2 separate regions of the Homo sapiens genome follow, and region 1 is linked to region 2. Evidence: fine-mapped expression QTL. A gene starts in region 2. The other region holds a variant in brackets. All regions are shown on one strand. Distances are between the middles of the regions. Region 1 has its middle 5.0 kb from the start of TMEM191C. Region 2 holds the start of HIC2 (HIC ZBTB transcriptional repressor 2).

The links.
Region 1: its variant is fine-mapped to the expression of HIC2 in blood mononuclear cells (TOPMed, PIP 0.95).

What each region holds. Positions count from the first base shown.
Region 1 is chr22:21,459,666-21,465,028 of GRCh38, reverse strand. No RefSeq gene overlaps it. Among named protein-coding and RNA genes, the nearest start is that of TMEM191C, 5.0 kb to the left of the region's middle. The variant A/G (reference allele first, on the strand shown) is at 2,452.
Region 2 is chr22:21,415,267-21,420,629 of GRCh38, reverse strand. It overlaps HIC2 (HIC ZBTB transcriptional repressor 2), which reads right to left and starts at 3,259. Exons shown (of 3, transcript NM_015094.3): 1 at 3,070-3,259.

The sequences.
Region 1 (5,363 bases), 44 kb before region 2:
GAGGTTGCAGTGAGCCAAGATCACGCCACTGCACTCTAGCCTGGGCGACAGAGCGAGAGTCTGTCTCAAAAAAAAAAAAAAAAAAAATTTTTTTTGTAGGGACAGAGTCTCACTTTGTTGCCCTGGATGGTCTCAAAATTCTAGCTACAAGTGATCCTCCTGCACTGGCCTCTTAAAGTTCGTAATGCTTTGCTCTTTTAAGTTTGTCTCTTTGTGAACATGTAAGAAACTACGGGGCCGGGCGCGGTGGCTCACGCCTGCAATCCCGGCACTTTGGAAGGCCAAGATGGACGATCTCCTGATCGAGGCCATCCTGGCTAACACGGTGAAACCCCGTCTCTACTAAAAATACAAAAAATTAGCCGGGCGTGGTGGCGGGTGCCTATAGTCCCAGCTACTCGGGAGGCTGAGGCTGGATAATGGCATAAACCCGGGAGGCGGAGCTTGCAGTGAGCGGAGCTTGCGCCACTGCACTCCAGCCTGGGTGACAGAGCAAGATCCATCTCAAAAAAAAAGAAAAAATTTAAAATGAGCTGGGTGTGCTGGTGTGCACCTGTAGTCCCGGTTACTCAGAAGGCTGAGCTGGGAGGATCTCTTGGGCTTGGGAGTTTAAGGCTGCAGTGAGCTATAATCATGCCACCACACTCCAGCCTGGGCAACAGTGAGACCCCCAACTCAATCAACCAATCAAAAATGTCTTCAGATCGGGCGCGGTGGCTCACACCTGTAATCCCAGCACTTTGGGAGGCTGAGGCAGGTGGATCACTTGAGGTCAGGAGTTCAAGATGAGCCTGGCCAACATGGTGAAACCCTGCCTCTACTAACAACAACAACAAAAAAAAAAATTAGGTTGGGCGTGGTGGTTCAAGTGATTCTCCTGCCTCAGCCTCTCAAGTAGCTGGACTACAGACGCCCACCACCACGTCTGGCTAATCCTTGTATTTTCAGTAGAGATAGGGTTTCATTATGTTGGTCAGGCTGGTCTCGAACTCCTGACCTCGAATGATCCACCTGCCTCAGCCTCCCAAAGTTACTGGGATTACAGGCGTGAGCCACCACACCTGGCCAATATTTTTTAATTTTAATTTTTTGTTAGAGAGAAAGGATCTTGCTCTGTCACCCAGGCTGAACTTCAGTGGCTTGATCCTAGCTCACTGCGGTCTTGAAATCCTGGGCTCAAGGAATCCTCCCACCTCAGCACCCCCAGTAGCTGGGACTACAGCATGGCTGATTATTTTTTTGTAGAAATGAAGTCTCACTATGTTGACCAGGCTGGTCTCAAACTCCTGGGCTCAAGTGATCCACTCACCTTGGCCTCCCAAAATGCTGGGATTACAGGCATGAACCACCCCCGCTGGTCTTTTTTTTTTTTTTTTTTTTTGAGATCGAGTCTCACTCTGTTGCCCGGGCTGGGGAGCAGTAGCGCCATCCCAGCTCACTGCAGCCTCGACCTCCTGTGCTAAAGTGATCCTCCTGCCTTGACCTCCCAAAGCACTGGGACTACAGGTGTTAACATTTATTTTTAATTTTTTTATTTTTGAGACAGAGTTTCACTCTTGTGGCCCAAGCTGGAGTGCAATGGTATGATCTCAGCTCACCGCAACCTCCGCCTCCAGGGTTCAAGCAATTCTCCTGCCTCAGTCTCCCGAGTAGTTGGGATTACAGGCACTCGCCACCATGCCCAGCTAATTTTTTGTATTTTTAGTAGAAACGGGGTTTCACCATGTTGGCCAGGCTGGTCTCGAACTTCTGACCTCAGGTGATCCGCCCGCCTCAGCCTCCCAGAGTGCTGGGATTACAGGCGTGAGCCACCACGGCTGGCCAGGCATTAACATTTATATAAACTAAATACACAGGGTGAGTACAGACGGTTGGTAGGACAAGGAGGAGGATGGGATCAGAAAGGAGGCGGCGAGAGCACCCACCAGGGATGAGGACAAGGGACATGAATGCTGTGCACCAGGAGGGGACATTCTGCAGATGAAAACTCTGCAGGTCAGAAGGAGAGTTTAGGACGCCTGCTACAACCAAGCACTGGGTCCCCTTTCACTAATGTTGAGAAATGCAAGCAAGACTGAAGGTATTTTGGTTACTTATAGTGGACTCAAAACGACCACAGATTGTCTACAGTTCTCACCACCAGTAGGTGGAGCCTGTTTCCCCAGCTCAGGAATCTAGGCTCACCCTTGGGTCTTGCTCTGACAAACAAGATGATGCAGAAAAGACTTTGTGGGCCTCCAGAGCGTGGACCTCAGAGCCTTTATAGCCCCTCTCACCCCCTTATTTTTTTTTTTTTTCTGAGACAGAGTCTTGCTTGGTTGCCCAGGCCAGAGTGCAATAGCACGATCATGGCTCACTGCGGCCTTAACCTCCTGAGACCAAGCCGTCCCCGTACCTCGGCCTCCCGAGTAGCTGGGACTGGCAGCAGCACCAACCAGCAGGCATGCCGGC[A/G]AACCCCCAGCCCCCAGCCAGCCCTGGGATGACTGCAGCTTGGCCAGAGCACCCAGGCAAGGTCTGCAGAACCTTTTGAGCACAAGGCCTGTTATGCAGCAAAGAATTACTGGACGTTTGTATTATTCGCAAAGGATTACTAGTGACTAAATTGTACTCCTATGAATGTGACACTATGCAGCAACCAGGTGACTGGGGTGGGGTGGCTTTACATGAGCTATTCTTGCCATCTCATGTTATAATTGGTCCCCTAGTGGTCAAAGTTGAGGTGGGGGAGAGGTGGGGCGGGGACAGAACACAGGGAGAGGAGCTGCTGCATTTCAGCCCCCACCTCACTGTGCACACGACTTCTGTGAGCGTGTTCAGTCCTTACAACCTAAAGGAGCTGGCACTGAAGGCTTCCATTTACATAGAGGAGGGACACGAGGGTGCATGTGTCCTGAAGCTCCACCACCACCCTTGGATTCACACCCGAAGGTTAGAAAGGTGCTATCTGCCAGTGCTGGGCCTGGGGAAAGCCATTTAGGATCTGCTGCTTCTCTTTCAGATAAACTTTAGAACTGTCTTGTCAAATTCTCCCAAATACATTGTTGGGATTTGATAGGAGTTGCAAAAACAAAGCCTGTATGTGAAGCGTATATATTAAAAGGGAAGAATGGGCTGGGCACAGTGGCTCACACCTGTAATCCCAGCACTTTGGGAGGCCAAGGTGGGAGGACCACTTGATCCTAGGACTTCCAGACCAGCCAGGGCAACATAGCAAGACCCCTTTTTAAAAATAAAATATTAAAATAAAAATTTTAAAGGGAAGAATGGACACTCTCCATCATCAGGTATTGGTCCCAGGAACAGAGCATTCCCGTCCAATCCCACAAGTCTTGCCTCAGGCCTCCTACAAATGTGCTATTTCCAAATGGGCTTTTGGCACATTTATCAAGGCTATGCCTATGTCACTTGTTTCCCGTTACTATTATGAAAAGGCCTTTCTGAAAATTTCATTTGGAGGCCAGGCATGCTGGCTCATACCTGTAATCCCAGCACTTTGGGAGGTTGAGGTGAGTGCATCTCTTGAGCTCAGGAGTTCAAGACCAGTCTGGGCAACATGGCATAACCTCATCTCTATCAAAAATACAAAAATTAGCTGGGTGTGGTGGTGTGCGCCTGTGGTCCCAGCTACTCAGGAGGCTGAGGTGGAGGATTGCGGGAGCCCGGGAAGCAGAGGCAGTGAGCCAAGAGCTACACTCCAGCCTGGGTGACAGAGCAACTGTCTAAAAGAAAAAAGGAGAAAATTGCATTTGGGATATACATATTACAGGTTAAATTGGGTCCCCCCGAATTCATATTGGAGTCCTAATTTTCAATACCTCAGAATGTGGCCTTAACTTGAAAACAGGGTCACTGCAGGTGTGATTAAGATGGGGTCTCAGCCGGGCGCGGTGGCTCATGCCTGTAATCCCAGCACTTTGGGAGGCCGAGGAGGGTGGATCACAAGGTCAGGAGATCAAGACCATCCTGGCTAACACAGTGAAACCCCGTCTCCACTAACAATACAAAAAATTAGCCGGGTGCAGTGGCGAGCGCCTGTAGTCCCAGCTCCTTGGGAGGTTGAGGCAGGGGAATGGCGTGAACCCAGGAGGCGGAGCTTGCAGTGAGCCAAGATCGTGCCACTGCACTCCCTCCTGGGCCACAGAGCAAGACTCTGTCTCAAAAAAAAAAAAAAAAAAAAAGATGGGGTCTCATTGGAGCAGGGTGGGACCCCATCCAATATGACTGATGTCCTTATGAAGTAGGAACTTGGCCACAGACGACACGCACACAGGCCCTCGAGGAAAGCGCCATGTGAAGGATGGAGTTCCGCTCCAGAAGCCAAGGAGTCACCAGGGGCTACGCAAGGGGCCAGACTCAGAGCCTCGCCGAGAGCCTGCAGGCGAGCATGGTGTCCACTGCCTCCACTGTGAGATGTGAACACCTGTGCTGCAGTGGCCGCAGGGAGCCAGTCCCGAGGGTCACACCGTGATGTCTGTCTGCAAGGGCCCAGCTGCTCTTACTGAGGCCTTTCCAGCGCAGCCGCCTCTCCACATTAGAGAGGATCAGCCTGGGCACATGGCTTGTGGTAGAAGGCCCTGATCACACCACAAACGCAGAGAGCGGCTTGTGATGCTCAGGTTTTCATGGCCACGTGGCTTCAGCCTCAGCAAGGAGGGCACCGGGCCCACGTCCGAGGGTTTACCTGGGGATGATCACAGTGAGGTGGGTGGCTCAACAGGACCTCACGGCGCTGGCCTGGGAGTGGTGGGCTCTGCAGGCCAGAGCTGTCTAGACGGGCAGTTTGCCTCTGGAGTCTTACATGTTCACTTCTTCCATAGCTCCGGCTCGTATCCTCTTCTCCCATGGTCTTGGAGCGTCCCCACCATATCCTGTTGGGGAAGCATCATGACCCTTTTCTTTTTGAGACAGGGTCTGGCTCTGTCACCCAGGCTGGAGTGCGGTCACACAATCATAGCTCACTGCAGCCTCCACCACCTGGACTCAAGCGATCCTCCTACTTCAGCCTCCCACATAGCTGGGACTACAGGTGTAGCCACACCCGCTAATTTTTTTTTTTTCTTTTTGGATAATCTTACTCTGTTGCCCAGGCTGGAGTGCAGTGGCACGATCTTGGCTCACTGCAACTTCTGCCTTCCGGTTCAAGCAATTCTCATGCCTCAGCCCCCAAAGCAGCTGGGATTACAGGCACATGCCACCATACCCAGCTAATTTTTTTTGAGACGGAGTTTCGCTCTTGTTGCCCAGGCTGGAGTGCAATGGCGTGATCTCGGTTCACTGCAACCTCTACCTCCTGGGTTCAAGCAATTCTCCTGTCTCAGCCTCCCGAGTACCCAGTATTACAGGCACCCGCCACCACCCAGCTA
Region 2 (5,363 bases):
AGCAGTCACTTCCTGGTTAAAACCCCTCCCCTCCAGGCCAACCCCAACCCACATGGCATCCAGGGTTCTCAGCCAGCCCACGGCCGGCTCCTCCCACGCCACCGCTATGCCCTCTGCGCTCCGCTAGATGCCAGCCCTTATCACCCCATCTTATAATCATTTGTTGAGTGTCTGCCTTCCCTAGGCTGAGCTCCAGAAAACAGCGATACATGAATGTAAACTCCAGTTCTGTTCCCATTGTAGAAACCCGGCAGGAGAGTCAATCACTGCTCAAGGTCATGACGGGAGTAAATGGCAGAGCCAGCAATGCACTACAGACTTTGCGACCGACCAAGTCCAGTTCCCCTCTCACTGCCCCACAGGGGTCCGTCCTAGGCCAGGCTCGGAGGAGACAAGAAGGGAGGAACCCAATGTGTTCTTTCTTCCCGCGGTGAAAGCTGCCTCCCAGGCCAGCAAGAGCAGCCCAGAAGAAGTGCCCCACTCTCCCAGGGATCAGGTACTGGGGGCAGCGGGCAGGACAAGGTATGGGGTGGGGCTGACTGCTCCAGGCCAACAGACCAAGCAATAAGGTTGGAACCACAAGTCCCCTGGGTAAACTGAACTTTATTCCTTCCTCACGGCTCTCACTCTCCAGAACTGCCCCGCCAGCTCTTCTCCAGGGGCTGGCTGCTGATTAAATGGCACTTCCCCACCCCTCAGATCTGACCCCGCAAACAATAAGGACTTGAGGGGAGGCGGCAGGCTATCAGCTCAATAATGCAAAACCCTGTTGCTCCTCGTCCACAACAGCTGACTTCAAGTGGATGGGAGGCTGCGCTTATTAACAAAATGAGAAATCTGATCTACGGAAAGAAAACACTACGTGAGGATTAATCTGCGACTGCAGCTTGTGGAGAAGGCTGGGCTGCTGGCCAAGACCAAGGATCGAGGATGGGATCGTGCCTACCTGTCCCCAGAGCAGGTATCATGCAGCACAACAGGACTCATCACCCCTGCCCCACCTGCGCCTTCTCTTCTCCTTCCAGCAACTTCGACAATCATTTCGGTTTTGCTTTAATTAAAGGCCTGACTCCCTCGGGCTGCTTCTTCCTCTACACAGAGGCAGCAACCAGAGGGAGATTTTTCTTTTCAGGAATCGGTCGTAAAAACTCAGTGACTAATCTACAAGTTCCAACAACTGGCAGAAAAACACCGCAGGGAGAGGTTGCTGGGCACACAGCAGCACTCAGAGCCAACTGACCAGAGAAGCTGGGCCACAGGCACTCTACTACAACCTCCCTCCCCCAGCCCGACACTGGCCTGCCGACCCACCTGAGAGCTCTGACCTCCCAAGGCAGGCAGCTGGGGAGCCTCTTCCCAGCCTTCCAAGTCTACTGCTCGTCCTGTGGGACCCAGAGATCTTCACAGTCTCAATGGCACAAGACGGAACGTTCACTTCCAGGCAACAATCCTGCGCCACAGGACTCAGTTCAGCCCCCAAGTATCAGACTCCCGGCCCTGTTCTTGGTGTTCAGAGCCCACTAAACCAGCAGTCTTGCCACACAGCTTTGTCTCCAGAGGCCAGCTCATCTGCTTTTTTTCACACTACTCCAGCAACCCTGCTCCACCAAGCACGCACACTCTCCTTGACACAGGGCTCCAGACCAACCACATGGCCTGTGCTCCTGAAAATGCCTGCCTGAAGGCCCAGGGAGTCCAGACACTGGCAGATGAGAATGGACGAAAAGAAGCCAAGCCAGAAGCCAGGAAGCAATAAATGCTAGACCCAGAAAGGCCTTAGGTTTGAGTGACCCAGCTCCATCCCTCCATCCTGGATCCTTGGAGGACAGCCCCAAGTTCAGCCTAGGAGCTCCCAAGGCCCCTCCACTACCTGCCAGCTCTCCGACAGCACAAGAGACACAGCAATCCCACATCAGTCAACAACCCACCGCCACAGGATTCCTAGGGGCAAGGCTCTGCCCCTCCCCCCAGCACATATGTCAGAGGGGTGGCTTCCCTGGGTTACACCCCTCCTGCTGTTGGGGGAGTGGGGGGTCGGGGAACACAGCTTTCCAGATGTGCTTGGCAACTCCTACTAGAAAAGACTAGGGGTGCGGGGGACAGGAGAAGACATGGATAAATAACTTTAACACCGCTCCAACCCATCCGGCTCAGCACTGGGCTCCCTTACACAGGCAGTCCCAGGCAGTTCTGGGTGGGGCCGTTGGGAGCATTATCTGGCCTCATTCCCTCCTCTCAGCAAGTCACTGCCCCCCAGGGAGAGGCATTCCCCCCCACCCCCCCCAACCACGCACACACCCAGGCCTGTGTGAATATGAACCATCTTGGAAGATAAACAGAGAGTGACAAGCTGGGGCCCCTCAGCCCCCTCCCTCAGCCAGCCGGTCCCTTCCCCCTGAAAGCCGACCCCCTCCCCCAAGCCCATCTCTCTTCCTGCCAAGCGGCTGCCTACAGGAGAGGTCTGGGGGCAGGGCAGCGAGCCCACCAGCCGCAGAGCCCGGCCCTCTGGGAGCGGCCCCTCCAGGCCCGCCCCTGCCCCTGCCGTGGCCAGTCTTCCCGCGGGGAGGAGGCAAGAGGAGAGGAGACCGCAGACGGTGCAGGACCGCAGTCCTGGAAATCGCAAAATCCTCTAGCGAGGGGGCGAACGCGGGCGCAGGGCCGTTTGCATAATGGGAGCCCTCCCGCCTGTCAGGCAGCGCAGCTCGCCCGACGCTGTTCGGATTAGATTGCTAATGAAAAGGCACAAAGAGCCGGCGCCCGCTCGCCCGCCGACCCCCGCTCCGCAGACCCGCGCCGCCTGGGCCTGGCGCGGCCCGGTGGGCTTTGTGCCCCGGGTGCCCCACCGCCCGCGCCCCTCCGGGCATCTGGCCCACAAAGCCCGGGCCTGCCAGGGGTCCCGCGTGCGCCCCAGCCCAGGCCCGCCAGACGCTAGCGCGTCCCCCACGCGCGCAGTCCCACGTCGCCCGGGCGCGCGCGCGTCCACGCCCCTCTCCCCGGGGACGCGCCCAGCCCGCGGCCCCGGCCCCCGCCCGCTCCCCGCGCCCCCCGCCCCACAAGGCCGCCCCTCACCTCGTGTGCGTCGGCGGCGGCGCTCCGCCCGCCGGCCGGCCGGCCCTACCAGCGGCCCTTGTCCTCAGCGCCCGGCTCGCGCCGCACGCGCCCGCCCCGTCCGCCTGCCGCCAGCCCGGCTCGGCTCCCCGCCTAGCGCGCCCCGAGCGCCGCTCACAGCCGCCCGCCCAGCGCCATCTTGGAAGCTTGTGACGTCGGCGCCGCCCGCTCACCCCTGACCCACATCTGAATGGGCGAGCGGCGGGGCGGGGACAGGGGGCAGCTGGGGGCGTGGCCTGTGAACAGGGGCGGGGCCTGCGGGGGCGGGGCCGGGCCGGACAGCGGTCCCAGCACTAGGCGGGGCGGGCTGCCGGGGTCCGGCGCCGTGGGGGAGGGGTGCGCGGGAGGAGCCGGGGACCCAGACCCCGGACATCTAACCGGACTCCGACCTCAAGCGCCAGGGCAGGACCGCGACCTCGCCCCTGAAATACCCGGACCGCATACCGGCCCCCGGGACAGGGACCCTGGCCCCCCCCGACAGGCTGACGCCCACCCCCTCAAACTCTGGTGGACTTACCCCCTTTTAGCCCTACCCTGACCCCTAGGAGCCCCGAATTAGGGACCTCTATCGGCCTACGCGCCCCCTCCCCGACCCCTTTGCGACCCCTGCTCGACGCTCCCTGCGGTTGCCCGAGGCTCAAAGGCGCAGCCAGCAGTGACTGCAAGCTCGGGGGTCTGGGCTCCTGGGGAAGCCCGGGCTGGTTGGGTGCAAAAGAGAAGGGGCGCCCCTCCCGTGACCCCAGCGCCCCTCGGGCCCCCGCGGGCGCACCCCCGCGAACCCTACCTGCTCCGAGGGCGCGGAGGACCCAGCACGCTGCGCTCAGCCAGCCCCTTCCGGTGGCCGCAGCCCCTCGCAGGCCCCAGGGGTCAAGCGCCTGCCCGAGCCGGCCCACCAGGACCCGGGCTCCCGGCCGCCATGCAGATAGCCTTCCCAGGGGCTGGGCTGGCCTGAGCCGCCACTGCTTCTCTAGGGAGCTAGTTAATGGACCGCTCTCTACTTTGAACACCAAACAAAGGAACACACCACTATCGAGGTCGCCCAAGTCCAAGAGGAGCCCAGGTCTGCCTTACAGGGAAGTTGTGCCCCAGCTCCAGTCAAGATCAAAAACCAGTTTCAATAACCCTTCGCCAAGCTGATGATGCAACCTTTCTTTCCTAATGGATGTATAGGTTTAATGTCATCCTAACAACATTTCTTAGACTTCACAAAATTCTAAGTTCACCTGGAAAAATAAATAGCCGAAAACAGCTATGGTTTTCCCCCCTTGGGAACAAAAGCAGGCATGAGGGTAGACTTGCCCTAACAGATATCAAAACAAATTGTAAAGCTACCGCAGGCATTTCAGTGTGGTACAGAACAGGAAATAGAATAGAAAGCCTAGAAACATCCTAGAAATGGTAAGAACACAATAGATGAAAAAGGAAATATCAAACATCTGTGGAAAAAAAAGAGCTATCAAACATCCCTGAAGAAGAACAAGAATATTCCACAAATAGAGCCTAGCAGAGGACTCACTATTTGAAGGAACGACTGAAAAAAAAAGTCAACCATTCTACTAACCCAAGACATATAAATTAAAACTATAGGCCGGGCGCGGTGGCTCACGCCTGTAATCCCAGCACTTTGGGAGGCCAAGGCGGGCGGATCACGAGGTCAGGAGATCGAGACCATCCTGGCTAACACGGTGACACCCCGTCTGTACTAAAAATACAAAAAATTAGCCAGGCGAGGTGGCGGGCGCTTGTAGTCCCAGCTACTCGGGAGGCTGAGGCAGGAGAATGGCGTGAACCCCGGGGGGCGGAGCCTGCAGTGAGCCGAGATCGTGCCACTGCACTCCAACCTGGGCGACAGCGAGACTCCGTCTCAAAAAAATAAATAAATAAATAAAATAAAACTATAAGAAGCTGGGTTTTCTCCTAAACAAATTAAAAATCAGTTTCAAGTGATAACCTTCAAACACAAGGTCTGATAGGTAATCACTCTCATATACTTTTGGAAGCACATAAATCACCTCAAAATTCCTGGACATGAGTTTGGCGGTATGAGCCAAAAGTTGTTTTTTTGGGGTTCTTTTGTCTTTTTTTGTTTTTTGGAGACTCGGAGTCTCACTCTGTTGCCCAGGCTGGAGTGTAGCCTCAAACTCCTGGGATCAAGTGATCCTCCTGCCTTCCAAAGTGCTGGGATTACAGGCATAAGCCAACGCACCTGGCCCCAAAAATATTTTAAAATAATTATACCCTCTCAGACCAGTATT